Homo sapiens: one gene and its partner. The protein of the gene in region 2 interacts with the protein of the main gene of each other region in a pairwise test. Each region holds a gene or a part of one and is shown on either strand. Other genes may lie near its edges. The genes, in order: NR5A1 and ASAH1.

Region 1 (15,093 bases), on a different chromosome or scaffold from region 2:
AAGCGCCCAGCCCGAGGGTCGGGGACAGGGGACGCGCGGAAACCTGCCGGGCAGGAGCCCAAGCGCCAAGGCGAGGCCCCGCAGGGTCGGACCCAGACGGGGGCCCGGGCCGCAGGAGGCGGAAAACGACGGCGCCGGGACCGAGAGCCCGAAAACGCAGAGCCGCCGGGACCCCCTCCCCGGGGGAGACAAAGCCGCAGCAGCGACGGCAACGGGAGGCGCAGCCCGAGCCGCCGCTGCCACCGGGACGTCGGGCGGGGAGACCTCGGGCGGGGGTCGGCGGGCTCCGGGAAGCCGAGCCCGAGGCGAGGGAGCGACCTCGGGCGGAGAGGCGAAGTCCGGAGGAGGGAAGCGCGAAGAGCCAGGGCCCGGGACGCGAGAGGGGGCGCGACGGCGGCTGCGGTCGGCCCGGCGCCCACCTGGTCGCTCCTGCGAGCAGCGCCCCGCGTCCCGCCCGCGCGGAGCCCGCACCTCTCGGCCGCGCCGCCGCCGCCGGCGAGGAGCCGCACCCGGGCGCAGCGCCGCCCGCCCGCGATGACGGCCGCTCGGGCCGGGGACGGGGAGGCGGGGGCGCGGGGCTGGCGGCGCGGGGGCCTCGGCTCCCCCCTCCCGCCTCCCCGCCCCCCATCCTGCCTCCCTGTTCCCCCCCGCACCGCCGCCGGGGCCGCTCCGAGGCGCACCTGGGACCCGGGCCCCTCAGCCGCCACCCCGCCCTGCGCCAACCCGCCGCGCCGGGGCCGGGGGCCGGCCCCTCTATATCGGCGCGTGCGGTATCCGGGGGCGGAGGCCCGGTCGTGTCCTCCCCCCAAGCCCGGCCCGCGCCGGCACCCTCTCCGCAGTCCAGCTCGAGTCTTCGCCCTCATCCTCCAGGCCCCCCAGCCGCAGCCCGGCTCCCCGGACCCCGAGCGCGGCCAGAGAGCTGCGGAGCCCGAGTGCCCCGCGATCTGGGCAGGTATAGGGCAGTGGGGGCCTTGGGTCACCCGCCTGCAGTGGGAGGAGGCAGCTCCTGTCTGTGAACCCAGCTGGGTCGTGGCGAATGCCACGCGGGTGGCTGGTCGCACTACAGCGTGGAAGTGGGTAAGGGCGAGTGGCGACCGTGGCCGAGGCTCGGATTCACGGGTGGAAGCCAGATTCTCCCATGGGGCCCACCACATCTCCTCACTCGAGCCTGTAGCAGCTCTCTCCCCGTCTCGGGTCTTCAGTTGCCGCATCTGTGAAGTGGGTAGATGACCGCTCTTCCTCGCTAAGGGTGGGTCGTGAGGATGAACCCAAGCAGTAGGGGCAAAGCACGCGTGTGGCCTGGCGGAAGCGCTCAGTGGCGCCCCTCTGGGGAGATCTGGGGCGAACCCCTTCTGCTCGCTAGCCTCAGGTCGCTGGGCTGGAAATGGGACTCGTGGAAATCCCATTTTACAAATGTCCGAGGCCTGGGGGGACCCGAAGCCTCTACGGGCGCAGGAGCTGGGAGAGGAGCCCGGAGGCAGGGCCCCGCTGCTCCCCTCGGAGCTCTCACGGGGGGGTGGGGCGAGGAAGAAAGCGCTGGGCGGTCTTGGGGACAAAGGGGTTCCCGGGCCTATGGGCCAAGCAGTTGCTCTGGGCTAGGGACCATCCGCGGGGCCACTGTTTTTCAGCTGGAGAAACGGACCCGAAAGGAAGGGGCCTGCTTGCATCCTGCCTCCGCCCCCGCTGGCACCTGGGGTCAGAGAGAGTTTGGGGACCATGAGGCCAAAAAGCTGCGATCTTCAAGCAGGAAAATACCGCAATTTTGCATTGACAGCGGCGCAACCCACCAAAAGGCTCCATCTGGGCTCCCGCCCGCCTGGAGGCCTCGGGCTTCGGTTGGAGCTGGGCCTGGGGCCTGCAAGTTGTGGCCAGAGAACCCCCCGCGCAGACCGCACTCAGCTGGCTCACCCACAGAAGGAGCAGAACCCGCAGACTAGCTGTGCAAGCTCGGGCAAGTCACTTCTCCTCTCTGAAACGAGAGCCTCAGTTTTCTCCGAGCATAAAGTGGAACATGTTGGCTTTACAGATGGGGTACTGCGGTTTCCATGCAAGAATCTTGGATGAGGAGGGAAGAAAGAGCCAGAGACCCTGTTAATCGTACCCCCCGCACCCCCAAACCCCTGAGAAACAAGAGCATCTGCCCGAGCTGGAGGTGGGGGTCACTGCCGCCTCTGAACAGCTCCCCACCACAATGGAGCCCTCAGACAGTGACTGCAGGAGGGAAGGGGGTTGGTGGATGATGGGCTGGGGTGCCCCAGTTGGCTGTTCTAAGGTAGAGCTCACCCGAGGTCTCCTGGAAACCTGGAGCTGGACACACAGGCCCCAGCCGCCGGGGTTGGGTGGGGGCTGGGCTCAGGCCCTTCTCCCTCTATCTCCAATCCCCTCTCCCCAAGGGTTTCTACTCTCACCGGCTGGAAGCCCATGGCTCCTCTGCACTCCAGGCTCCGAGGCACCCACCCCCACAGGTTCCAGGTTCCAGCCCACCGCCTGGGGAGTTCCAGCCCCTCATCCACCCACCCAGGGAGGGAAGCCTAGACCTGGCCCGGCCGCAGAACCCAGGCTGACAGATGGATGCCGGAGACAGACACACGGATACACAGCAAGACTCAGAGAGAGCCACAGAGACAACACAGAAACTCAGGTGGGGGACAGAGCCCCAAGACAGGCCCAGAGCCCTCCAGACACACTCACAGACCTCTAGGCTCAGACCCACACAGCCTGGTGGATGCCTGGCCAGAGACAGCGGGACACCAGCGGACCTCCATGGGGCTTGTGGTCACAGGCCTGGCTCCTCCCATCGGCAGCCCAGGGAAGAAGAGGGGGTAGCATGGTGGGAGGGTGAGTCTGGGAGACCCCTGGCACCTTCCCTGCCCAGAGCAGGGGGCACCGGTCACTAAGTGGAGCAGGCAGTGGCCGGCCCAGGCTGCAGGGAGGCACTGCAGAAGGAGGCTGGCCATTAGAGGCCTGGGCCAAGGCCCTCACTTACGAAGCGGAAGCAGCGCTCTCACACCGGATGAGGGTGGCAGTGGGCACCAGGGGTCCAGGGGGAGGCTCCGGCAGCCCAGGTGGGACGGTGGCGACTGTGGGTGCGCAGAAACCCCCTCACACCACGGCGGGCGGCAGCCGGACAGCAGGCTGGCCCTGTCCGTCCGTCCTCCTCCTCCTCCCCGCCCTGGTGGGGGGGCCACCGGAGGCCCAATTGGTCTCTGCCCCCACGTGACTCTGCAGGCCTCTCGCCTTCTTTGTTGGTGTTTCTCTTCATTTACGTCTATTTTTTCTTCTTCTCCTAAAAGAAAAAAAATACCCCTATCTATCTGGGGGCTGAGGGTGGGGGCGGAGGCCAAGGCACTGCAGAGGCCTTGGCCAGCTGGCTGTTCCAGGCCCGCTGTGGGAGCCCAGAGGCAGGGACCCCACAGAGGCGGGTAGGCAGCCCCGCTTGTTAGAAACCGGGTGGGAGTGGGGCTTGATTTATGGGCTGCTCCCCCACCCGGCCTGCCGCCTGCTCCTCTCTCCTTGTGAATGGCTACCTCCCTGGGGCCTGGCCTGGCATGGTCTGGCCCAGCCCGGACATTGGAGTAGAGTCAGGACAGGCCAGTGCGGAGGCAAGGCCATGGCGACTTGACTAGGCGGCCTGCTGCTTCCACCTCTTTTTCCTCTTCCATCAGGTGGAAGAAGAGGGGGGCCGGAAGGGGAGCAGGTGAGCGGCCTGGACACCTGGTGCGTGCATGCCACGGTGGCCTCTGAATGTCCTCATCTGCTGTGGGCTGCTGATGTTCCCAGTCGATGGCTGGAAAAACTGAGGCTGGGCTGAGACTGCCTCTGAGGCCAAGTGGTGGCTATAGTGGCCCCAGGTTGAACCAAGTATGAAGCTAGTCCAGGATAGGACAGGGTAGCAGGAAGGGGCCCTTATCTAGAAGGCTAGGCCTCCCTAGACAACCTGGGACGTCCCCATCCAATCTCTGGGCCCAGATGGGCTCTGAAATATCCTGTTCCTGTAGGGCCCGGGTTGCAGGGTGTTGTGCCGCTCCCACGGTGACTGGATCTTTTGTGTGTTCCTCTGTTTGTCTCACATTTACTGAGCGCACACTTAGGGGTCAGGCACTGTTCCAGGCACCAGGGATCCCATAGGAAAGAGAAGAAAAGTCTCTGTCCTCAGAGGATTTACCTCCGTGCCTTTCATCTTGGGAGAGCAGGGAGGGGCACAGGGTGACTATGGGGCAGTCACTGTTGAGAACCACCCCTCCTCCCACATATCCCTTCATTGGAGGAAATAAATAAATCACACCCAACACCTCACTTATCTGGAACAAGAGGGACTTTTCTGGATAAGTGAAGTGAAGCCAACTCTCCCTATATATATTTTTTCATGGAAGGCCACTGAAAAAGTAGAAACGCCAACTATATTTAAAACCTATGTGTTTTCCAGCCAGTCACTGTGGCTCATGCCTGTAATCCCAGCACTTTGGGAGGCCAAGGTGGGCGGATCACCTGAGGTCAAGAAGTTCAAGACAAGCCTGGCCAACATGGCAAAACGCCATCTCTACTAAAAAATAGAAAAATTCACCTGGTGTGGTGGCTTGTGCCTGTAGTCCCAGCTACTTGGGAAGCTGAGGCAGGAGGATCGCTTGAACCTGGGAGGCAGAGGTTGCAGTGAGCCAAGATTGTGCTACTGCAGTCCAGCCTGGGCGACAGAGTGAGACTCCGTCTCAAATAAAATAAAATAAAATAAAATAAAATAAAATAAAATAAAATAAAACCTAGTGTGTGTTTTCCTCATTATGCCACTTAAAATTGTGTGTGAACATACAACAATAATACTGATAGACTGTAGTCCCGGCTACTCGGGAGGCTGAGGCAGGAGGATGGTTTGAACCCAGGAGTTGGAGCTGCAGTGAGCTATGATTGTGCCACTGCACTCTAGCCCGGGCAATAGGGTTTTAATAATTAATAATCATTAATTCAATAATAATAATTTTTATAATATAATTTCACCAACAGTCATAGCTAACTGATCGAATATATTCCACCTACAACGTAACAGACAACTTATTCCTCAATGTGCATGACCTTGTAATTATGTCTTTTTCACCTAGAGAAGTTCTTACAAGATATACTTCTCTTGCATATGGCTGAACCTAACTAGTCTCCCTATTTTAATATTCTTTTTTTAGTGTCCCTATTTTGTTTTATGTCTTTTGAGACAGGGTCTTGCTCTGTTACTCAGACTGGAGTGCAGTGGTACCATCATAGCTCACTGTAGCCTCGACCTCCTGGGCTCAAGCAATCCTCCTCCCTCAGTCTCCTGAATAGCTGAGACTACAGGCACATGCCACCACACCTGGCTAAGTTTTGTATTTTCTTTTGTAGAGATGGGGTTTCGCCATGCTGCCCAGGCTAGTCTTGAACTCCTGGGCTCAAGAAATCGGCCGCCTCGGCCTCCCAAAGTGCTGAGATTACAGGCGTAAGCCACAGCACCTGGCCTTAGTGTCCCTATTTTTTTTTTTTTTTTTTTTTTTTGAGATGGAGTCTCACTTTGTTGCCCAGGCTGGAGTGCAGTGGCACAATTTCAGCTCACTGCAACCTCCGCCTCCTGGGTTCAAGCAATTCTCCTGTCTCAGCCTCCCAAGTAGCTGGGATTACAGGCACCCGCCACCGCACCCGGCTAATTTTTGTATTTTTAGTAGAGACAGGGTTTCATCATTTTGGCCGCACTGGTCTCAAACTCCTGACCTCAGGTGATCCACCCACCTCAGCCTCCCCAAGTGCTGGGATTACAGGTGTGAGCCACCGCACCTAGCCTAGTGTCCCTATTTTAATGCAATGATTTTGTTTCTGGACTAATATCACTCACCCTCTGAATTTAATAAGAAATATCCCAGCAAGTCCAGGCGCAGTGGCTCACGCCTGTAATTCCAGCACTTTGGGAGGCCGAGGCGGGCGGATCAGGAGGTCAGGAGATCGAGGCCATCCTGGCTAACACGGTGAGACCCCGTCTCTACTAAAAATACAAAAATCAGCTGGGCCTGGTGGCGGGCGCCTGTAGTCCCAGCTACTCCAGAGGCTGAGGCAGGAGAATGGCGTGAACCCAGGAGGCGGAGCTTGCAGTGAGCCAAGATTGCACCACTGCACTCCAGGCTGGCAACAGAGCAAGACTCTGTCTCAAAAAAAAAAAAAAAAAAAAAAAAAAAAAAAATATATATATATATATATATATATATATATATATATATACACACACACACACACACACACATATCCCAGCAAATACCCACCACTAACATGTCACATACATGTAACAATAACAAAATCATGAATCTTTGCACCTCATTTAATAGGCGACCTTATGAAGTGGGGTCTGCTTTGTCCGCCTTCTTAAACAAGACAAACAGGTCTCTCTCCACACCATGACGCCATAGAAGGAACCAGCCTGGCTTTGTCCTAGTCTCCTGGTGAGTCCTTGAGCCCTGAGAAGGAGAATTGCTGGCAGAGTCTCTGGATTAAATCCCAGTTCTACCACTTTCTAGCTGTGTGACCTGGGACCAGTCACTTCCCCTCTCTGGGCCTTCTCTCTTCTCTATAAAATGGGGATGAAAGGAGACAATACGTGTAATGTATTCAGTGGCTGGCTGGTATGTCATGTGTGCTCAATAAGTGTCAGCAAAACACAAACAAACAACCAGCTGAAGGACTGGATGATCTGTCCTCAGAGGCCCTTTCCCTGTTGAGTATGAGATTGCAACATCATCATGGACACCGTTTGCCCTTCTGTGATGAGCGCCTCACCTCAGCCTGGGGAAGCCTCCAGGAAAGGCCTGATTTATCTCTGGGTCCACAGCAGCCTGCGTGGAGCAAGCGTTGGAACTTGCTGAATGACCACTTTCCTCCGCACTTGTAGGTAGAGCTCTGCTGCCTGCTCCATGGGTCCTGTCTCCTCTGACGGCATCAGTTGTCACTCAAGGCTGGGTGCTCCTCATCCCCTAACCAACCCTGGCCACAGTCACTGGTACCCCCTTCCTCTGTGCTGCCCCCTCCCACCCTCAGCCAAAGTGGGTGCTCTATGGGGACAGGGGCAGCCAGGGGTTACCAGCGTGCTGGGAATGGCAAGGCCCCAACTCAGAAGTGCCCCCCTATGTGCCAGGTCCCCAGCTAACCACTCCACACCTGCAGTCAGTCTCGAACCTCTCCGGCATTCTGGGAGGTAGGTAGTAATTCCCTCTCAACCCCCGATAGCAGCAGTTAAGAGAGGAGGAAAGTCAGGCTTAGAGAGACCAGGCATCTTCCCAAAGTCACCAGGCGAGGGTGTGATGGGACCAGCGTTCAAATCCCAGCAGTGGAGTCCAGAGCCCAGGCCTGCAGGCTGACTCCTCTCCACCCTGCCAGAGCCCCTGGGTGGCCTGTCCTTTCCTTCAAGCTCTAGCCCTGGTGGTCCCAGGCCACTAGACCTACCCAGAGGGGAAAGCAAAGGAGGGCTGTAGTCCTGACTCAGGCGCCCCCAACCTCCCTCCCCAGGCAAACAAAGCCCAGGGTCTCTCTCCTAACTGGGGACTTTCCCAAAGTGCCAGGCCCATTTCCTGGAGGTGGGATAAGGAACAAACAAACCAGAGGCCCAGAAACTGAAACAGAGAGAGGGACAGAATCATCAGGCTGCAGAGTGGAAAGGTGGCCAGAAAAAGAGAGAGAAGCTGCAGAGGCTTGGGCAGAAAATATGAACACAGAGAGAAAGGGGAGACGCAGTCGGAGGGAGGGAGGATGACAGAGAAATTCAGAGTGGTGAGGGTTGGGGAGAGAAGAAATGAGAGCGAGAAGAAATGAGGAAGAGAGAGAGAGTAGGGATGAGAGAGATTCAGACGGAGAGAGAGAGACTGAGGCAGAGAACGAGAAGCGGGAAGGGCCGAGGCCTGGAGAGCTGGAGGTGGAGGGAGGGTGGATGTGGAGACCCCGTGCAGGGCAGCGGAGGGGGCGGGCCTGCTGGCGGCAGCAGAGGCTGTTTCCGCTGCACCCCTTATCAGCCTGCTGCCAGATGTTCAGATCCGATGCCAATGTCAGAGAAGTCCATAGTGCTGGGTCAAGGCCGTGGCCAGCGGGAGCCTCAGCTGCAGTGTGGGGAGGGGGGCTAGGGGCCTGCAATAGACCTGCTCGCTCTTCCCCCTCTGCCTGGTGGCTCTCTGGGCTGGACCACCTCGTGGGGATGGGAAAGGCCAGGTGCCCCTGGGGCCAGTTCTCTAGACTGAGAGCAGGGACTTGTGGAGGCAGATTGGGGCTCCTGGCAACACGTGGACACATACATCTTTGCACATTCGAGAAAGCACATGGACACACACTCAGGCACATGAGTGCACAGTGCCACATGGGGACAGCTCACAGAGTGAAGAGCTGCGCCCCCACAGCTCTCCTCAGCACCCCACAGCCTGCTAGAGCCCCTGCTCTGCGTGTTCAGCTTAGGGCCCCTACCCCCCCGACCTCTCTCCTGACCCAGGACTGCAGCCCGCACTGGAGAAGCAAGATAGGAGCCTCTTTGTGGCTGGTACTATTCCTAGGGCCCACACTGCTCTTCTGTGAACTGGATGCACCCAGAACCTGCTGCCCCAAGGGCTGGGCAGAGGACCTGGGACCCTTAGAACATGAGGCCTGGGGGAGCCCCCGTAGGAGGTGCAGAAGGTGGCATCTGGCAGAGCTGGGCTCCAGCCTTGGGTCTGGCCTCTCCACCAGGCTCCTGGAGCGTGCAGTGCAGCTGGGGCCCCCAGCCTGGGGTAGCTTATCTCTCGGTGCACACGCTTGGCCCTCAAGGGGTGACCCAGCCTTGCTCCCCACATTCCACTTCAGCCACGCAGCCGGTGGGCGCCCCCACAGCCCCGAGACAGGGCCTGTGCTTGGAGGGTGGTCAGAAGCCATCATGCTGCACCACCCCCTGCTCTCGGCTCCAGCCCTGCACAGCCATCTCTGGTGTCTCTTCGCTTGTCTCTGCTTTCATCTCTGTCACGATGAATCTGTCACTGTCGGTATCTTAATCATGTTCTAATTTGTTTCTCTCTGCTATTTTCAGCCGCCTAGTCTGTTTTTCTTTTCTCTCTCTGGGGTCCTTGAATGGGGCCACATCTAAGGATACTGACACTTTTCTTTCTAGCTCACAGTGGCCAGCTGAGTGGGAATGTCTATGAGAACTCGGGCTTGGGTGAGGGACAAAGGGCTTCAGAAAGCAGAGACCTTGGAACTGTAGTGGGTGAGCTGGGGCAGCCCAGGGAGCCCAAATTCAGGCCCCCTCCCACCCACTGCTAGGAGTCAGCCTGGATGATGGACACTGATAGGGCCTGGTGCTGGAGGGCTCCCCCATGTAGTGGAGAAGCCTGGGGGTGGCAGCAATGGGGAGGAAGCTGGGGCTGGAGGTCTCCCAGCCTGAGAGCCTCCTTCCTGTTTGTAGGGAAGTCACTGCCTCACAAACCTGCTAGCGGGAGAAAAGGGAGGCCATGGGGACTTCCGGGAAGCTGGCCAAGGGCCCCAGGCTACCCTCCCTGTGCCCACAAGGGGCCCTCTGGCCCTGGCTTAAAATAGTACAGTTCCTCCTGTAATGGTGCTGGGCCCAGCCCAGACCTCAGAGGGCTGCTGGCTGGCTGCTCGTGCTGCTGGCAGAGGCCCGGGTACCCAGCCCTCCTCAGATTGTGGCTGGAGGCTTTGTCTTGGTAACATGGGTGGGAATGGGGAGTTGCAGAAAAAGCATGGGTTCCTGAGTCAGAAGCCCTGGATTCAGGTCTCAGCTCCAACACCGACTAGCCGTGAGACTTTGGGCTGGTCCATGTTGCCTCCCTGAGCCTCAGTTTCCACTTACGGAAAACAGGGTGAGCACGTGGCTTTTAACCTGAACGAGACCACGTATGTAGCTGATGCCTATGGACCTTGCCACACATAAAGTGGACACTCAAAAAATGGGAGTTCCTTTTGCCTCCAACTCACCTGAGGAAGTGCCTCCTGGAAGCACTCCTCAGTACCTACACTGCTCCTAGGACTGGGTGTTGAACAAGGGTTTGTGGAGAGGCAGCATGCAGGGAGGGCAAGGATGGGGCTGTGGTCTCCATGGTGAGACTTGTTGCCAAGGGAACAAGACTCCAAGAGCCCCGGGTCTGGCAGTTGGGCACTTTTGCCATAGGATCTGAGAGACTGATTACCACTGTGGACCTAAAACCCTGATGGGCAGCCAGGCCAAGGCTCCTGGCTCTGCTAAGTTTCTGCTCTTGGGGTGTAGGGGCGACAGCTCCCCGTACCTAGCCTCCTTTCATGTATTGACTTCACTGAGACCCAACTTTAAGCCAGCCACACTCAATCTTCCTTAACACTGCCCCCTGTCCCCCAGGACACAGGTACCAGCACCTCCATTTGTCTGACAGGGAAAGTGAGGATCAGAGAAGCATCTGTCTGGGTCAAGGTCACATACAACCAGGAAGGGCAAGAGCTGGAATGAGAACTCAGGTGGTGAGATCTCTGGTTGACGTGCCTGCTGTCTCATAGACTGCTTGAAGGAAACGACCCCTGGAAAGAGCTCTGTGTAGTCAGACTCAACCTCATCCCAGCACTTTCCCCTGCCATCATTTCCAGGGGCTTCTGTCTTCAGACTCTGACTTAATTCGGAGTAGCCAGCCTTCCCTGTTTCTTCAGGTATGCAGATGGTCTTACGTACCTCTGAGGGTTTGCACAAGGATAAGAATCACAGCACAGATCCTGCCGAATAGTAGGTGCTCAATCGATGCTGGTTTATATTCATTCCTGACATCTTGCCAGTTATGTAACCTCAAGCAAATGACTTACCCTTTCTGGGCCTCTGTTTTCTTATCTGTAATATGGGATCATTATAGCATTAACCTCACCGGGTTGCTCTGGGGAATCAGTAGTACTCTAATGCACACAAAATACTCAGCACAGAGCTTTGCTTTGTTTTCTAGATGTTACTTTATTATTCCTCCATATTATTGGCTGGCACCCAGGAAACTGAAAGCTCAGTGTCACATAAGCAGCAATTTATGTATTTAGAGCAGTGTCCTTTTATTCCATGGAATATTATCCCAACAGAATTTTAACAGGAGGCAAAAATGTCCAATGCTCAAATGCTTTTGGTAGAACCTGGGTTAAACAACATTAGTTTTCTTCAGGTGGGACTTCTCGAGACTTTAATATGCCAGTAAGGGCTGAGAATCAATGAGGATGATAGAGCGAGTGCAGCACTTCCCATATTTTTGGCAACAGAATTCAGGCTTCTTCCATGGAACCATCTCTGGGGGTGGGGTGGGGTGGGGGGGAGGTTCCTGAGCTCTGGGAAGCCATACCAATGTAGCGCCTGCAGTATTCCACATGACTGGGCAGCACCGCTTTTCAGCTCACTTTGGTTGGGTCTGTTCATCCACCTCTTACAGAATTAATCCTTTATTAATGTTTTTTATTTTTTTGTTTCTATGGCAAAAGGTTCACCCAAAGGCCATTACTGAGCTTTGCTACAAACTCTGGATATCCACATTCAGCACTACTGAATTGCTAAGGCTGAGCAGGGAGGAAGCCAGTTGTAACTTTAGTATCAGATAGACCTGGATTCAAAAGCCAATTCTGCCACTGACTAATGTGTCATCTGAAGCAAAAGGCTTAACTTCCTTGAGCCTCAATTTGCTTATTAGAAAAATGGGGCTGAGACCTACCCCTTGCAAGGCTGTTATGAAGATTACTGAGACGACATGCGTGAAGCACCAATTACGGCGCCTGGACTCACGAGGCGGTGGGCCAATGCGTCCCTTCTCCTCCCGGCACCTCTGTGTATCTGTTCCCTCTTGTGGGGGCAAGGAAGACAGTCTATTAATTCGTTCTGCAGCATTTGCTTTGTTCTAAACCCATCTCTTTCAAAACTCAAGGGCTCTCTGGTTTCTTGTGCTGGAGGCTGAGGAATGGGAAGGCAGCTGGGCTTCCCTCATTTCACACAAGAGGATTAATAGACTTTGATCAAACCCTCCTCAGCCTTTATCTTCCCAGCCTGAGAAGCCTTCATCTCTCCCATCTGTCTTCATACACCCCTCAACCCAAACTCTGCCACTTCTCTGATCATATGAGCAGGCCTACAGGACAGTTGGGCAGATCTGAGTTCAAGTACAAACTTAACACTCCTGTGTGATTTGGGCCACATCCCTTGATCTCTTAGAGCCTCCATTTTTTCAGCTCTAGAAAAGCTATTAATAGACCTCACCTATTTTCTGGAAAGACAGTATTACTTTGCTAGAGCACAGTGCATCCTAGGCCATCCATTGGCCTCTCATGCACTATGATGCTGCTCTCTTGCCCAAGACTCAGCAAACAGCTTTCTTTCCCCACACTCTTGAATGTGGCATCCAAGGCTCCCAACTGCTTCTCCAGCCTCAACTCTTGCTAATCCCTCCCACCTGCCATCATTCTTGCCATGACAGTCCCTTGTTTTACCTGAACACTCCCATCTTTCTGATACACAGCCAGGCCTTTGGACATGGATCCCTCTACCTGGCCTACCTGTGGATCCCTTTGCCTCGTGACTTTCTTCAAGGGCCACCTTCAACAACACTCATCTGTGAAGCTCTTCCTGACTATCCTCCATAGAACAAGCCACTCCTTCTCCAGGCCCTTACAACCCCACATACATCCCTAATGACAACCTCATCCCCCCTGCACTGCAAAAGTCTGTATCTGCCTCTCCACTAGGCTCACTTCTCTGGTTGTGCCACTCACCTTGGGAGAGTCTTTTCACCTCACTCAACTGTAGTTTCTTCACTTATAAAACAGAATAATCCTTGAAGTTCAATATGGTGCCTGGCACACAAGTTGGGCACTTCAGTCAGTGCTGGTTCATTGATTCAGGCAGTTCCGAGACACCACCTTCTGCCAGAGCCTCAGCAACAGAATTGAGGTGGGTGTCAGCTATGAGCAAGAGACACAGGTCTGAAGGCACAAGCCGGCGCCTCAGGACACGCCATCATCCCTCCCCAGAACCCCAGACAAGCTTCACAGACAGATGCCATGTGCAGAAGGATTCACATTTATTGGTTCAAATACAGTACCTAACACTTGCTAAACATGCATTTCACACTAATTGGTCACATTTCCACAGGTAGTCAATTCACAGAACAGGGCCCATCCCTTGCCAGCTGGCAGGGTGGGAGGTAGCAGAGGGCCTGGGTAGCCTGCAGAGCCCGCCAGCTATCATTTGGTCATGGAGGGTTGATGGAGTCAGGCTGGCGGGCAGCCCTTGGCCGGCCCTTTGGAGACAAGGGCTCAGGGACATCCCGTTTCCTCGATTCCTACACACAGGACTGTGGGTGGAGGTGGACCTAGGGCAGGTAACCTGGGGGTAGGCTCGTGGATGTGTGTGCCACTAGAGCCCTTAAAGGTGGTGTCTGTGGGAGTGGTGCTCCCTATGCCCTGGAGCACAGGAAGGAAATGGAGGCCTCTTCAGGGGGGTGACTAGTCCCTGGCTGGGTAGGTGGGAAGGAATCCCCAGACACAGCCCAGACATCACAATGCAGCCACCAGCCCCTATGGCAGACCTGGGATGGCAACACAGACAAAAACACCAACACCCCAGGGCAGGCGGGGCTTCTTTCCCGACAGAAACATGTAAACAGAGCAGGAGCTACAGTATTCTTTTCCCACAGGATTCCTCAGAGAGGAATCGACCAGGATGTCGCTTAAGAGGTAGTTTTTTTTTTCTTTTTCATGGAAATTTGAATCAACAACATTATCACCTATTACAAGACATTTTAGAGAAAGAAAACAATGGTCATTAAAGGGCAAAGACGGCAGGGCTAGATCTGGGGGACTAGCCTCCACCCATAACACAACTTTTGTTCTTGGGCTTGGAGCAGGCTCTGACCTTACTCACCGCCTCCCTTTGAGCCTACAGTTGATTCCTGTGCAGGCTGTGGTCCATTTAGGGCTTCAGGCCCAGAAGACGGATGCTAGATGGGAACTGGGCTAGACAGAGGGACCAGGCTTCTATGAGCGGGGAGAGGCAGGGCCACCGTGGCTCGTGTCGTAGGACAGCTAGAAGCCTTCAAGTCTCATGGTGGCCCAGGTCTGGCCAAAGCAGAAGCCCCAGCTTGCTCCAGACTTGGCAGGCTCTCTGGAGTTCCCGCCTTGGAGGAAACAGTTCAGGTATGGCTCCCAAGCCCAGAAAAAATGTTGCTGTGGCAGCCTAGAGAGGAGTTTCTGGGGATCCTGTAATTAAATACACATCCCTGAGCTGTGGCCCCAGAAACCCTTGTCTCCAGGCTAACCAGTTTCCAACACTTGGTGGAATGACTGCCGTTTCTCATCCTGACACACAGATAAAACATCATTTCACAGATACTGGACATAGATGCTTCAAGCCAAGGAGAAAGGGAGGATGATCAGTTGCAAAGGCAGAGGGGAGTGCAAGGGAACTCTCATGGGCTGGGGTAGGGGGAGGCAGGGGAGTAAGAGTAGCGGATTTTTTTGTTAAATTTTGTTTGTTTTTTGGGTTTTTTTTTTTTTTACTTTAAAAAAATCAATTAAAAATTCAAAGCTTAATAAAAGGGCTGGTCTGAAAGACTGGATTCTTAAAATAATTGCAAAAATTTCAAAAGCAACAAGGAAAAAAGATACACACCAGGGGCCCAGAGAGGAGGGCCTGGAACCACAGCTCAGCTTTCTGTCCTGCTGAGAGGCCAGGGTTCCCTTAATTCGACCAACCTTGGACATGGCTTAGATGCTGCCCACAGTGGGTTTGTCTGTCTCCATCAGTCCCATTCCCCCAGGAAATCAAGAACAAACAAACAAATGTAGGAAATGGGTAACAGAGCAATGCACCTAGCTCAGAGCCCAGGATTTTAAGGATCTGGTAACAGTGACCATGGCAGGTACTCACCTCCCTGAAAAAGGGTGGCAGGTGAGAGGCAGGTTGATGTGGAGTGGGTGACATTCAGTGATGCCACAGAAACCCTTAGGATTCCCCATTCCTTGCTCTGGTTCTGGGAAACAGGACAGGGAGGATCCTGCTTACTTCCTCCTATCCCTGGGGGCTTGCCCACCTCTCTTGTGAGTGGGGCATAGGGGCTGGGTGTCCTCTGAGCCAGGTTG
Region 2 (15,598 bases):
TATCCACAAGAGCAAATGAAGCTCATGGTTTATATTGCCGGTTCAATAACACATGTGAGATTCCAATATTTTCCACAAAATATCTGAAAAGGAATACTATAATAAATAACCATGAGCTTTAAACACCTCGCATGTTCACAAGTTTTGTGAATTTGCTCAACTCCGCCTTTTTCTACTCACAAATATTTTTACTACTGTCAATTTTTATAGATCTTAGCAGATTCCATTCCAGGTTATACTCAATCATTATTTTCTCAGCTTCTTCGAAAACATCCTCGCCTGTAGTTGTTTTATACAGATGATTCAGAGGCTAACTCTTCAGTCACTTCAAACTTGGCAATGATCATCTAATAAATATCAACAACTGATCAGTTATCGGTATGTTGACAGTCAAGAAAAATCACTCAAAAATCACATGCTTTGTTCTTTAATTGATATTGATGTTCTTCCCAAAGTCCAGGACAAGGGTTCTCAATGACATGTAAAATAATTTCATTTTCCCTGGACACAATACTTCTGCTACTACAATCGAATACAATTTAGGTAATCCACCATTGGTAAATGGCTTTCCTTATTTTGCTAATAAATGAGCTACTTAGAGACTTATAGGGGTTGCAACTTAATTTTACTTTGTAAAATTTGTAAATAAGTTCTGCTGTGAGGAGATACTCCGCTTTACATTTTCTTGTTTATCTGACCATTGTTTTCCTATGAGTTGGGAATACTGTGATGGGTACTTAACCCAAGTGCTTAATTTTATGATCATGTTGTGGACTTAAGACCCTGCTCCATTAGTGACTTGTAGAAAGTTACACAGCTGGTGACAGAATCAGAGTCAATGGCTTTCCCTGTTCTATCAAACAGCTTCCCACAGAGATAATAAAACCAATGCCTCAATTTAATTCCTAACAGAATAATCTGCGCGTAGTTCAGGGCTTCTGGTGATCACTAGAATCAACTCGGCAAATTAAGTGAAACGTAATGACTCCTATCCCTTCCTAATAATGACATTTGCACGCCCTGGGTTCCAAAGCCAAAATAAACATCAAATTACAGGCACATTTCTTACTAGACAACTGTGAGCAAAGTTGAAAATGCTCTGTCTAGTATTAGGAGAGAATGTGACCTGCCCCAGAGGTAAGAACTAAAGAGCAAGCTAGCAACAATACATGTGGAGTGAGTCTGAGGTTGATAACGACTCTTGGTAGCAATAAACAAACGTGAAATTGGCATAGAACCTGGCTGCAAGGAAATAGGATAAGTGTGACAGAAAATAAGAAAGTTGGCAGCTATGAGACTACAGTATTTCAGGGGCTCACATGGCATGAACGCCTAAGTCGTTTATGCAAAAAGGTTAGTTTTAGGGGTAGGGTGGAAAAAAGAGCTACTTCCTCCCCCTCAAAAAAGAATTCTACAGGGAGACACAGCTTCAAAACCCACGAGTAGCCCTAAAACAGAATTATAATGAACTTACTTAATGTTATTTAAAGTTCCTTACTATCCCCAAGTTTATAAACAGTTTAATAACAGACAACTCTATTAAGGCAGGTAAAAACTTAAATAGATGATAGGTAAAGATTAGAAACAGATGATAAGAAGAGAGATTATGTGGTCTGGATGGTATACTATGTACACCCTATCACAGGAAACAAAATCCAACTTAGAATCAATTCTCTCTAACCCTCTCCCCACAGTACCTCTCTTTCTCTCTCTCTCCCTGCCCTTCCCTACCTTTCTCCCTGCCCCTCAGTGGTCTCCTAAGAGTGAAGATAAGTGGTAAAAATCTGATATTTCAATGCATTTGAAACTCTCTGGGCCAGGCATGGTGGCTCATGCCTGTAATTCCAGCACCTTGGGAGGCTGAGGTGGGTGGATCACCTGAGGTCAGGACTTCAAGACCAGCCTGGCCAACATGGCGAAATCCCCGTTACTACTAACAATGCAAAAATTAGCTGGGTGGCATGTGCCTGTAATCCTAGGTACTCGGAAGGCTGAGGTAGGAGAATTGCCTGAAGCCGGGAGGTGGAAGTTGCAGTGAGACGAGATAGTGTGACTGCACTCCAGCCTGGGAGACAGAGCAAGACTCCATCTCAGAAAAAAAAAAAAAACAAAAAACTCTCTGGAAAGTGCTTTTAAAAGACTGTTTGGGTCAGAAAATTCTCTAATTTTTCTGGTTATTTGATAGAAACTTAAGCCTCTTTGAATGTCCTCCCCATTCATTAAGAGAAATTAATTACAGAGCTACTGAACACAACATTCTAAAAAAAACACAAAAATATAAAGAGAACATTAAGGTCTCAATGAAAGCGCCATACCCTTAAAAAATGGCATAACTTGTACAGCTCCTTAAAATATTTGAGCCCGAAAGAATTAGGAGACCCTCAATGAAATAATGTATGCTTCTAATAGTGAATTTTAAAAGTCCAGAAAGCCCTTGTGTGCTTGTCTTATTGAAATACTCAGAAAGAGACAATGAAGGATAATCTAAAATTACATACCTCATGTCAGTTTTCATACCCACCAGAAGCCAAACAACTCTAGCCAGACAATTTTTCATTCATTCAATTCTTGAATTCATCAACAACTATTTTGCAGACAAGTTTTTCCTATAATGTCCTCTTATGTACAACTCAGCAGAAACACTGAATACAAAGAGGCATGTTTCCTACGTGTACAAGAATTCACATGAGCTTGAAAATGTTTTCACTTGTCTTCTGGGCTTTGATGGGATGGCATCCTATTAAGCTACTGATATTTAGGTCAAAGGAATGTGAATAAACCCTCCATGAGAGGAAGGACCTCATCTATCTCATTGGCTGACGCATTCCCAGCGTTTAGGAGTCTGGCACATAGTAGGCAAGCAGTATTTGTTGAATAAGTGAATGGATTACACCTGTGTGTTCCCTCTTTGGGAGAAGTAGGGAAAAGCAGATGAAGTGCAATAAATTCCTAGGCCAGATGGGGTCTATGAGATTTCTGGCAACTGCGTGAAAATCATTGCTAAAGCTGATTCAATAGCTAATGTCAACAATGTTGACATACGCTGTTAACTAGTATGAGAAGCTGATGCATAAAAATGAGTTTACAAGTTTACTTTGGCAATTAATTACTAAGCCATTACGTTTCATCTTCGCACATCTTATGAAGTGGGTCAGATTTATTACGCAGAGCAGCCATCTCTCCCCTCTAGTTCCTTTCCTGCCAATCACACTTAGCCTACCGCAAGCTGTTTTCTGCCCCCAACACTGCTCCAGTCGAGGTGACCAATGACCTCCAGTTGCCCAACATCATAATACCACTGACATCTCAATAATATTCAACATAGTTAACCTGTCCCAGTCTCTTCCCTGAGCTTCCTGTTCCACTTACTCTCCTATTTTTTTGTTTTTGTTTTCTGTGACGAAGTTTCGCTCATTGTCCAGGCTGGAGTGCAATGGCAGGATCTTGGCTCACTGCAACCTCTCCCTCCCAGGTTCAAGCAATTCTCCCGCCTCAGCCTCCTGAGTAGCTGGGACTACAGGCGTGAGCCACTATGCCCAGCTAATTTTTGTATTTTTAGTAGAGACAGGGTTTCTCCATGTTGGCCAGGCTAGTCTCAAACTCCTGACCTCACGTGATCTGCCCACCTTGGCCTCCCAAAGTGCTGGGATTACAGGCATGAGCCACCGCGCCCGGCCTGTCCTGTTTTAACTTTGGCAATTTCTCCTCTTCTTGACACATACATGTGCAAGTTACTTAGCCTTTGCCTAGTTCTCTTTTCTTCTCTTTCTCTATCCTATTTCTAGGTAAGTTCATCTGCTCCAAGGGCTTCAAATATAATATCATTATGCCAGTGACTCTCAGTGTCTCTCTTCTGAGTGCCAGTCCGAGTGGCCTGCTGGATGCCTCTCTGCCACCTGAAATTTAACATACACCCCAAATGAAAACGATCCTCATTCTTTAGCCCCCAAGCTTTCCCCTCCCCATGTTTCCTGGAACGGATGCCACCATTCGCCCAGCGAAGCACTTCAGCAATGTGCAGGTCACGCTGACACCTCACTCCCTCATCCTCACCCAACGATTCCTTCAGCTCATTCGCCCTCCTGATTTTTTTCTAGAACATCTACTTCTCTCCCTCACCCCTGGCGCCACCATCCTTCAACGCACCCTGTTTTCTTTTCTGGACTAGTCTCCTCATATCTACCCTTGCTGACCTCCAATCCAGACTCATCTTTTTAAAGTGAAAATGTTATCTTGTCTAAAACCATCTAATGGCCTCCCATTGGCTGGTTCCAGATCCTCCCATTTTTTAGGATAAATTTCTGAATCCTTAATAAGAGTCTACAGAACCCTGGATGATGTCATCTGGCGCTATCTCTCCAGACATTTCTTGTGCCACTGTCTTCACCATCATCTCTTAATAGACTCCTAAAAAATTCAATAATGAAGAATAACTCAGGAGGACCTTCACATAGGAATATTGTGAAAAGCCTCAAAAACAAACACACAAAAAATCCTTACAGATGTTCTAAATCAAATGACTTGTTTCCAATTTAAAGCTGCTTCTCATTATTCATATTTATTGAAAGTACTTTTGAAATATCTTTTGTTACCATGAGGCTATAGTTTATCATATAATGACTCCAGTTGAAAAACTGCTTATTCTTCTCAGAGAATGAAGTCACTAAACTTCTGTAAGGTTCTAAAGGTCCTTCAGTGCATGGATCCCAGGATTTTCCAGGCCAGTAAAAAAAAATTAATGAGGCCTTGGCACAGGAGGGTCCAAATTTTTATTCTGCCAAATGGAGATGTTAAAACAAAACAAATTCCATGCACATAACATCTACCTCTGCCGTTATTTTTAAGAACACGTTTGCAACAATGAAAACTTGAAGTCCATACAATCAGAGTAAAGATTAACATTCTAAATTAATAATTTTAGTTTTGCATTCTTATTTTTCCAGTTTCATTGAAAACCTGTGAAAACAGCTTCCCAAAGTGACACCAGTGGCCAGACTAGACTTTGATAATCGCTGTTCTAGATAAGAACTATTATATCCATTGAGAGGTTGTTAATTCTTCTTCTGAAAATAGCTATCAAAATACTTTTGCTAGAATAAATAAAGCTATTGAGAAAGAAGAAAAAACAGCCTCCAACACCTGAAACTGCTCTGAGTCCCACAGCTATCTCTCAATATTATTACAAGCCGATCTGACACTCACAGCCAGGTAAGCTCTGTTTTCCTCCTGGACATCAACAATCCCACAGATACCTACGTCGGATAAGATTATTCTGAGACATGACACACCAAGACAAAGCAATGCCACTTGAAGATTTTCTCTAAGAACAGACAAAAACAAGGGCACCTGCAACGCACAAAACACCAAACATCCCCTTCTCGTGCTAAACAGAATGGCTGTTCCTTCTTTACTCAGTCAGAATTGCCCCACCTTCTAACAGCATTCTATCTACAGCAAAGCCCGGTTCCTCAGTCTTACCCCAAATCATGCAACCGAAGTTCAAATTCTGTAATGGGTTTTTTTCTATAACCTACCGTCCGTCGCTCATGGTGTGTGGTCTCCTTTGCCTCAAAGAACACTAAACCCAATTTGTTCAGCTTATGGTGTGTTCCTGGTGGTCTTTCAATGAAGGGCCCTGACAGTATCAAAGTATCAAAGTCTCTCCCAATTCCCATAAAACCAACTACCGTCAAGCAAATTAATTCCCTACCCACAATGGAGCAATTTTATTTTAAGGCCTTTAATCGTGTCCACATACATGTTCTGTGTATTTTCCTATTACAGGAAAAACTGTATATACTATTCTGGATTCTACTTTTATCTGCTGAACATTATATCAATTTTAATGGCTAAATCATATCCCACCATGATTTTAAAGAATTTCTCCTTACAGGTATAAAAGAAGACAATGCACATCTTGCTTCCACTTTCAATAACCTACCTAAACTATTCAAGACCATCACCATCTAGCCTCAGGCCAGATGCGCCAGGTTCCTACTTATCCGATTCTGTTGGCAAAGACAAACGCAGTCTGATTGCTTTATAAAGAAATGAATTATGAAAGAGTACTGGGCGTCAAGAGGCTCGGACGTTACGCATGTTCAGTAAACAACAGTGTAACCTCTGGCTAAATATTTTCTCACTCTAGGTCTACTTCCTCTTCTGTAAAATGAAAGAGTCACGCTCGTCCCTCACTGTCTCTTGCAGTTAGGAAGTCCGTAGCCCTGTGACTTGCTCGTGGGAAAGAGCCACGGGACAGGCGATCCCATGACTTGGGTGCAAAAGGCCACAGGGGGCCCTTTGGGGCCTGCTCTGGGCTGCTCGCACCGCCCAAGCTTGGGACCACTCAGCGTTTCCCACGGCCCTGCAGTATCCTGGGCTGAACTCCTGAACTTCTTCGGGAGAAAGCACCTGACCATCAGGCAGTCTGTCCTTGATTGAGTAATGCACACAGGTCCACCGGAACATTTTATTTAAACACTTCAAAATGCAAGGGCCTGGAACTGGTTATTCAAGTACACTCACTCAAATCTAAGAATGTGCGAATCACACCCAGGTATCCTGCAGAGACTAGGATTTCCTTTAAAGGAGTTCTAGTTGCAGGTAGCACCGAATCTACCGAGGACGGGGTTCGCCAGCCCGCTCTGCACCCACACCCCTGTGCACGAAACCACAGACCCCCGTAAAGAAGCTGCCCAGCACGAGGTGTTCCTTGTACCCGCTCGCGCCGCCACACCTGCGCCTCCATCCGCGCCCGCACCTGCACGCCCCTCTCTGCGCCTCGGCTCAAGCTCACTCACCGGCGGCGCGTGCTGCGCGACGGCACAGCTGACGGCGGCAGCCAGGAGGACTAAGGCGACGCAACTCCGGCCCGGCATCGCTCTAGCAGCCAACGCCACTCCCCGGACTCCAGCAGAGGCAAAGAAGAGCCGGCTGGGCCGGGGGCAGGCCACGCCCCCTCCGCCGCGTGACCCGCGACCTGGGACCGCACCATTCCAGGCAGTAGGGGGAACGCTCGGAGGAGGCGGGACTGGGAGGAGAGGACGGGGCTTTTCAGTGCCACGAAAAGGGTGGCGTAGAGAAAGAGAGAGAGCCTTCCAGGCTACCTGCAGAAGGAGAGTCGCGATCGCCTTTGGCGCGTGGCGTGATCCATCCCCCTCCCCCACCGCGGGCAATAGTCGGACCGAGCCGGAGCCCCGCCCCGTAGGTGGGGCCGGGAGCTTCACCCGTGGCGCCTCGATGGGGCGCCTCTAGCAGGCGGGTGCAGCCTGTCCCGCGTACCCAGGCGTCCTCGGTACCCACGAAACGGATCCAAAGAGTCTCAACACTAATGTAACATCCCACCCTGACCCATCTTTGCCCTCTGAGAAAAGCGGCCCGAAATGAGTTGAGTTATTCATCCCCACCGCGGAGTCAGGGACAAGGAGCAGTTGAGTGGCCGAGGAGTGAGAGAGAATCGAATCCACTCGGGTCCTCCAAGCTGTTGGTTACCCACTTGGGCTTTCACAGCAAAGCTGCCAAATCCCAGAATTGAGGCCTCGGTGAAAAGCGCGCTGAGACTTGGGTAGGAGGCCCGGTGGGACCCGCGAGCTTTCTCTCCCAGCCCGATGCAGCAGTTCATTAAGCGGCTGTGTTTCCTCCTAACTGGCGAAGGACTCAGGTGGGCGGAGCAGAGCTCAGCTTGGGAGGAGGCGGACGCGAGTAGCTCGGCAGGGGGACTCGCTTGGCTTTCGTGCCATCCGTGGACACAGTCGCGCGGGTAGGTGACCGGGTTGGATTTCAAAGTCCAGCAGGAAATCCTGCCCTCTGGGTTGCACTTCCTGGATGAGCCTCTGACGTCTCAAGCAGCATTGTTTTAATGCTTTGATGAAGCTCAGCACGCTGCCGAAATCTCGGCAGTATTTTTTCTTTTCTTTTTGCATGTGAGAGAAAGGACAACAAATTGCAGTTTTATCCATTTGTATTATTTCTTTAGAAAACTCAACACTCTTTTTGTTGGAGGTGGGGAAATGAGAAGGTGATGTTTTGTTTTGCTTTTTTTCCTATTTTTTTTTTTTAAAGGAGGAGAAGATGACAGTGTTCTCCCTAAGGATGAAGTTTGACTTTTGAAACATATCACATGCTTAAAGCACATTTGAGCTCCTGCATGAACAGTAAGCTAGCAGATGGTAGAAATATTCTTTATTAATTCAAAAAATATTTACTGCGGACCTACAATGTGCCAAGCATGTCTCCTGACACTGGGGATAAGCAGTGAACAACAACAAAAAGACAAACTTCTTCCACCCTGAGGCGTATGTTCTCGGTGAGAAATGGGCAATAAACATAATACCTAAGAAAATTATACGGGATGTTAGTGACAAATGCAGTGGAGGAAAAGGGAGGCCAGGGGCATCAAGTGTGGAGATCAGAAGTGGTAGAGTTACAATTTTAAATAAGAGGGACAGATAGACATGATTAAGGAGGTGAAGTTTGAGCAGACAGTTGAGGGAGACCAGGAAGCTAGTTTTGTGTGTGCCCAAGTAAGAGTATTCTAGGCAGAGACAGCAGCTGTTAAAAGGCTTTAAATGGAGAATGTGCCTGGCATGTTCAATTACAGCAGACGTGTGTGGGTCTGGCACAGAAAGAACAAGGGGAAAAGAAGAAAGAAGTATTAATAGACAAAGTATTTAGTTAAGGAGAGCAGGGCAAATTCTGTAAGGCATTCAGAGCCATTTCACTCCGGAAAAAAAATGTGTAATATTGAATATACGTGTTAAATGTTGAATCTATGGAATTACCTTGGAGCTTAAAATGAGTGTGCGAAGAAGAGGATTCCCATCTTTTAGTTGTTATTACTAAATCAAATAGCTACTTGATTGGAAGATCATTCATCTTCAGTACTCTTGAGAGCGATTTAAACATGTCACCAAGCATATTTTTTTCCCTACTGGAGGATGTTAATTGGTGATTAGGTAGTCTAGCAAAATCAGATTCTTTATGGAAAAAATTTGTCAATTGACATACTATTCTTAGGCACCACTTTCGCAGAACTATGCGTCTAACTTTCAAAGGTCTATTATATATTATTAATACTCTTTTCAGATAAAATATAAATCTAGTTCCCTAAAATTAAACCATTTCATGCATGTCTTTTTTTTCTTACACATATATCTTTATTTTGCCTACACCATTCTTTAATACTAGAAATGTACAGAAAGTCAAGGCAAGGTGTGTGTAGGAGACTTTGCAGTGGTTTTTGGCATACTGATCTGTTCATAGAAAATGGTATTTAAATGTGCAAATGCATGATTATGTCCACGGAAAGGGTGGTTCATACTGCACAAAAGCATCAAGTTTAAGACTTGGATAACCTGTTTCGTGTGCAAGAGTCGGGATATGTAATCAGATTGTTTATGGAATAGCTGAAGTTCTTGGCAAGCTGTGGACTTCCTCATCTCCTACCTAACATTCCTAGGTTCCTGAGGTGGAGCCTTGATTTAAAAGGGTTGCAACTTAGCCACCCCACCCTAAATGAAACCTATCATGTATAACATCACATTACCTGGAACAGGTTTGACTTGATTTAGTAAAACCGAATATACAAAAACGTGTACTAAAAGGTCAAGAGATAGAGAAATAATGTTTCAGTTTGAGAAATAAACATTTTTTTAACTTTAAATATTGACTTTTTTATGAATAAGGAAGCTTTTTATTTTACAGGTCTTTGTGGGAAGAAACAAATCACAAAAGCAATTAAGAGAGCTCAAACAATGGGTAAGAAAGAGCACCTCAACAACTGTATTGAGCTAGCTGAAATTTTGCTCATTATGCTTTGTCAAGAACTTTAATTATCTCTTTACAGGGTTTATGCCAGTTACATACAAGGATCCTGCATATTTCAGGGACCCTAAAGTTTATAACATCAGATATCCGGAATAAATTCCATCACATTACCACCAGTAAACTTATTTTATAGTAAGTGGTTGTATGACGCCAATACTGACTCAAACCAACCTTTGGATAGAAAAGTGTTTCAGGAGTGAGGTAAAGAATGACACTTCCCCTTCATACCAATCAGTGTTCATTAAGCAGATCGCTTATTTAAAATGTTAACACTCATCACATTTTACATATGTTGAATGAAAGTGGTTCTGGGTGATAGTCATTTATATCTGGTCCACAAATAGCTCATACAATGTAGTACACCATTCAACTGAATGGAGTTAAAACTGCTCAGAATGGTTTTCTAACTAGCAAATGTAAGTATGCCTGGTTAAGAGATCTTCCCTTTGTAGGAATGTTACACTGGGATGCATAGTGATGCTGTCACAGCAGGACAAAACATTCCTAGACAACTCTATCCTCAAACCAGTAGTGTCTTTTACATAAAAAGATGATTTACACCTAATAGACAGTGAATGTGATAGACATGTATGTATATATGTATCAGTTCTGAGTTCCACCAGCCTATCCCAAACACACTGGATTACCAGGCTTGTACTGTACTCAAAATTAAGGATTTGCTAAATTTCGTGCAAAGGACTCTAAACTAGGGGAGAGATTATTGTTTGTGTTGCGTTATAGTTGTGTAATAATTAAGGCTGCCAGATTTAGCAAGTACAAATGTAGGACAAATTTAAATTTTAGATCATGTTTTGCAAAGGTACTGCGTGAGATCCAGCATTTTATCTGGCAACACTAGCTGTAATGTACTTCTAAAAAATTATCACCTAAGGATAATTTTAATGACTCAGATAAATTTCATATAAATTTCTTTCCACATTGTGAAAATAAGGCTATTCTAGCTTTTCTAATACTTTTTTTTTTTTTTTAATAGAGATGGGTCTCACTGTGTTGCCCAGGCTGGTCTCTAACTCCTGGCCTCAATCATTCCTGCCTTGTCTTCCCTAAGTGCTGGGATTACAGCTGTGAGCCACTGTGCCTGGCCTCACTTTTCCAATTCTAAAGAATGTGTGTAAGCCTTTCCCTCAACAACTTATTGAAAGGCGAAAAAAGGTTTGGAAATAAAAGGATCTGATGTTTGAAAAAGTACTTTGTAAAATAAATGCACTAAGACTTATCTGTGGATTACTGCAAAGAGGTGAATATAGTAAAAACAAATGAACTTACCTGTATTACTGCAAGTAGCTCAACCTAGTAAAAACAATGGAAATGTTTGACTTTACCCATCAGCCAAATTAAAAAAATCTCCTTTTAAGGTTAAAAGGATCAAAATGTAGGTGACCGTGAATATTCACCAAAACCTTCATCTTTTCAATCTCTTCATCTGTTTCTGGGCTGCTCATTTTGGATGCTTTTTTATTGGTTACTACTATCAGTATCTGTTTTAGATGGTTTGTCTTGTGTGTCTAACAGCCGTGAACACTCTTTTTTTTTTTTTTTTTTCTCCTGAGTCGAAGTATTCCTCTGTAGCCCAGGCTGGAGTGCAGTGGCAGGATCTCAGCTCACTGCAAGCTCCGCCTTCTGGGTTCACACCATTCTCCTGCCTCAGCCTCCCAAGCAGCTGGGACTACAGGCACCTGCCACCACGCCGGGCTAATTTTTTGTATTTTAATAGAGACAGGGTTTCACCATGTTAGCCAGGATGGTCTCTGTCTCCTGACCTCCTGATCCGCCCACCTTGGCCTCCCAAAGTGCTGGGATTATAGTCGTGAGCCACCGCGCCCAGCCAATTTTTTTGTATTAGAGATGGGGTTTCACTGTGTTAGCCAGGATGGTCTCGATCTCCTGACCTCGTGATCCGTCCGCCGTCATCTCTTGAACTGCCATCTGTCAGCTAAGTCTAAGGTTTTATGCTTAACCATTTGTGGTGTACTAGCTGGACTAGCTTCAGGAATGTCAGTGTTTTCTACCATTAAGGTCAGATTGTCTACTACATCGAGATGGTGGTGGTTGTTAGAGCTACCTTTAGAAACATGTCTGTTTTTTTAAAGACATAACACATGCATGAAGAATTCAGAATCTGGAAAAAAGGTCCATAATGTTTGACAAAGAAAAATGTTCTCCTGAGGGTCTTTTTTGGATGCTCTTCTCTCGTTCTGCTGGAATCTGGGCTCATCTCCTTTTTTCAATTTCTCGTTTTAATCTGTTTACATCCTTTACTAGTTTATCTACTGCTTGTTCACTGTCTTCCACTTTTTTGCATATACTCTTTAATTTCTCTTACAATGAAGCATACATTTCATTTATCTTATGTACCTCCTTTAAGGATCCATCTTCTTCAAAAAATTTAGAGCTGTGTGTTTGTACTGCTCGGCTAAAACCAGTGGACATACAGGAACCTGATACAGTTTTATAACCTAGTTGTTCAGACATGCCCAGATTGGCAACCACTGAAGGTACCCTGTGAAAAAGTCCTTTTCGAGGTTTATATAAGGCATGTTCCAGTCGATGAGTAGAGCGGCTTTCTGTTATTATACTTGGTGTTCATAGCAGAAAAACCAGGTCTTGGTTTGAAAAATGCTCCTGCAAGTTTTTGTGAAGCAGCCTCTCTCTAAATGTCATGATCTGATCTGAATGACGATGGAATTTGTAACAACCTACCACATTTTTTGTGAATTTGATAATATTTTCCTCAGTGCCTGCTTATTTACTTCACCTGAAGAATTATAAAAACTAAAAAACTGATAGCATGGAATATATTTCTGAATGTCAATTGTATAAACAACTTCAGCATCATCTATTTGGGAATCAGTAATGCTATTCTTTTTTTTTTTTTTTTGAGATGGAGTCTAGCTCTGTCACCCAAGTTGGAGTGAGGTGGCCCGATCTTGGCTCACTGCAACCTCTGCCTCCCGGATTCAAGCAATTTTCCTGCCTCAGCCTCCCAAGTAGCTGGGATTACAGGCGCCCACCACCATGCCCAGCTAATTTTTTGTATTTTTAGTAGAGACGAGGTTTCACCATGTCAGCCAGGCTGGTCTCGAACTCCTGACCTCAGGTGATCCACCCGCCTCAGCCTCCCAAAGTGCTGGGGTTACAGGCGTGAGCCACCATGCTTGGCCTTGTCTTCTCCCTTCTAATATGAAAGAGGAAGCTAGGAATCCCCATTGCTGCTGGCATGCATGCTATAAACCTGAAGGGAGCCACCTAAGATGAAATTGATACTGTGGACTACACAGTAGAAAGATGGAAAGAAACTGGGTCATTGATGACATTGTCAAGATGCTAGATCAACCAACCACAGATCCTGTCCAACAACTGGACTCTTGATTTACATCAGCCACTACTCTGTTATTGAATCTTGGACAAGTTGGTTTGCTTACAAGTTAAATTATTGTATCTGAGAGCATCCTAACTGATACACACATGAAAATAGACATTTCTCCTTTGTTGAGAAGGATGTACAACAAATCTATGAACTTTAAGTTTTAGTACCTTCACTTGCTCATGCCCCTTCCCAACCTTTTACTAAATTTTATGCTTGTAATTTTGTATTCTTTTCCTTAAGGAGGACCACTTAAATTGCATAAGATTCAGGTGTCACCAAACCTGGATCTAGCATCAGATGTTGTTGGAAGAAAATGTCCACCTTTCTCTGCCGTCTCCTCCATTCATGTCTCCCTAGGGAAGGAGAGATGTATGATGTATCTAATCAGTAAATAGTTGAAAAGGTCACAGAACGTGCGTGGCCTGGCCTCTCTTCTGGCGCTTTCATTCAGATCTGCCTCCCCACAGTAGTAGATATGCCTGCCCACACTGGTAATTCTACTGCAGCAAGCCTTGAATGACAACAGTGGACGTGAAAGTAGTTGCTGCCTTTGACCACATCTTCCCAAAGTGGCACGTCACCAACAGACTTTAAAATCATGACGTTATAACGTAATGGCTGTGAAGATTTGGAAGAAAGCACTCTAAAATGAGAGCTCTGAGAGATGTAGAGAGAAGGCAGTCAAGGAATAGCGCCTATAAGCACCTCCTGCACATCCGGTCCCTGCGCCTCCATCCTCACCCTGCCCTCAGCTCACTCCCCTCCTGTTAGAAATTGGCTGTGCCCCTGAAAAGTCATTTGCATTTGCCTAAAGACTGAGTACACAAGCTCATTCCAAAGTAGAAGGTGTTGAAGTTCCATTTTGGCCTCAGGTCAAAATTGTTTTCTCTATTTCAGCTTAATGAGCAAGAAAGCAGAATCTAATATGTGTATATTTCTAACGCCTGTGTATATTTCTCAACTGTTTCCCAGCTCAGAAAGGTGAGGAGTATGACAGTCACCCTGAAATGACAACAGAAGCCAACAATAACAATTATAGTAATAATGTGTGTATAGAAAGTACTAAATGACCATTAAATGAAGAGCAGATTACTAGGTGCTATGGAAGATACACATGCAGTGAAATACAAATTCCAGATCTCAGGGAGTTTGCAACCGAAAAAGAATATAACACTAATATATATACAAGGGGACTTCAAAACGTTCACCTGCACCCTCCACCTCCCAGGTTCAAAGATGGAGTTAAAGGATAAAAAGTATAAACTTTATTTCTTTTTTTTTTTTTTTTTGTGAGATGGAGTCTCCCTCTGTCGCCCAGGCTGGAGTGCAGTGGTGCAATCTCGGCTCACTGCAAGCTCCCCCTCCCAGGTTCACGCCATTCTCCTGCCTCAGCCTCCTGTCATAAGCACCATCAAGGTCAAGACACTTTTGTCAGGGATGATACCAGCCATTTAGTCCATCCTTAAAAAAAAGAGGGTCCTGGGAATTTAACCATGTCAATGCAGTCTTTATTAACTGAAGAAAAATGGGTGCCCTTTACAGATTTTTTAAGATTAGGAAACAAAAAGAAGTCAGAAAGATTTCCTGTGGAAGCTCTTGCAAAATTGCCCTTGTTTGATGAGAGGAATGGGCAGGAGCATTGTCATGGTGAAGAAGGACTCTCTGGTGAATCTCCTGGGCATTTTTCTGATAAGGCTTTGGCTTTCTCAAAATACTCTAATAATAAGGAGATGTTGTCATTTTTTGGCCCTCCAGAAAATCAACAAGCGAAATGCCTTGAGCATCAAAAAGAAATGTTGCCATGATCTTTGCTCTTGACTGCTTTGTTTGTTTGTTTTTGGAGACAGAGTCTTGTTCTCTCACCCAGACTGGAGCGCAGTGGTGCAATCTCGGCTCACTGCACCTGCACCCTCCACCTCCCAGGTTCAAACAATTCTCCTGCCTCAGCCTCCCGAGTAGCTGAGATTACAGACATGCACCACCACTCCTGACTAATTTTGTATATTTATATTTATATTTTTATTTTATTGTTATTTCTTGGAGACAGAGTCTCGCTCTGTCACCCAGGTTGGAGTGCAGTGGTGCCATCTCGGCTCACTGCAACGTCTGCCTCCCAGGCTCAAGTGATTCTCATGCCTCAGCCTCCGGAGCAGCTGGGATTACAGGTGCATGCCGCTACGCCCGGCTAATTTTTGTATTTTTAGTAGAGACAGGCTCTCACCGTGTTGACCAGGAGGGTCTCAAACTCCTGACCTCAAACGATCCACCTGCCTCGGCCTCCCAAAGTGCTGAGATTACAGGTATGAGCCATGGCGCCTGGCTTTATTTTTGTATTTTTAGTAGAGATGAGGCTTCACCATGTTGGCCAGACTGGTCTCAAACTCC

Evidence for each region.
Region 1: the proteins of ASAH1 (region 2) and NR5A1 interact in binary tests that used the Homo sapiens proteins (3 or more experiments, as listed by UniProt).

Annotation. Positions count from the first base shown.
Region 1 is NC_000009.12:124,504,263-124,519,355, forward strand, and holds the start of NR5A1 (steroidogenic factor 1), read right to left. Parts: upstream 3,138-15,093; 5' UTR 2,987-3,137; intron 1-2,986. UniProt on the Homo sapiens protein: Transcriptional activator. Essential for sexual differentiation and formation of the primary steroidogenic tissues. Binds to the Ad4 site found in the promoter region of steroidogenic P450 genes such as CYP11A, CYP11B and CYP21B.
Region 2 is NC_000008.11:18,077,181-18,092,778, forward strand, and holds the start of ASAH1 (acid ceramidase isoform a preproprotein), read right to left. Parts: upstream 6,928-15,598; 5' UTR 6,879-6,927; coding exon 6,801-6,878; exon of another isoform or gene 6,737-6,800; intron 6,017-6,736; exon of another isoform or gene 5,942-6,016; intron 1-5,941. UniProt on the Homo sapiens protein: Lysosomal ceramidase that hydrolyzes sphingolipid ceramides into sphingosine and free fatty acids at acidic pH.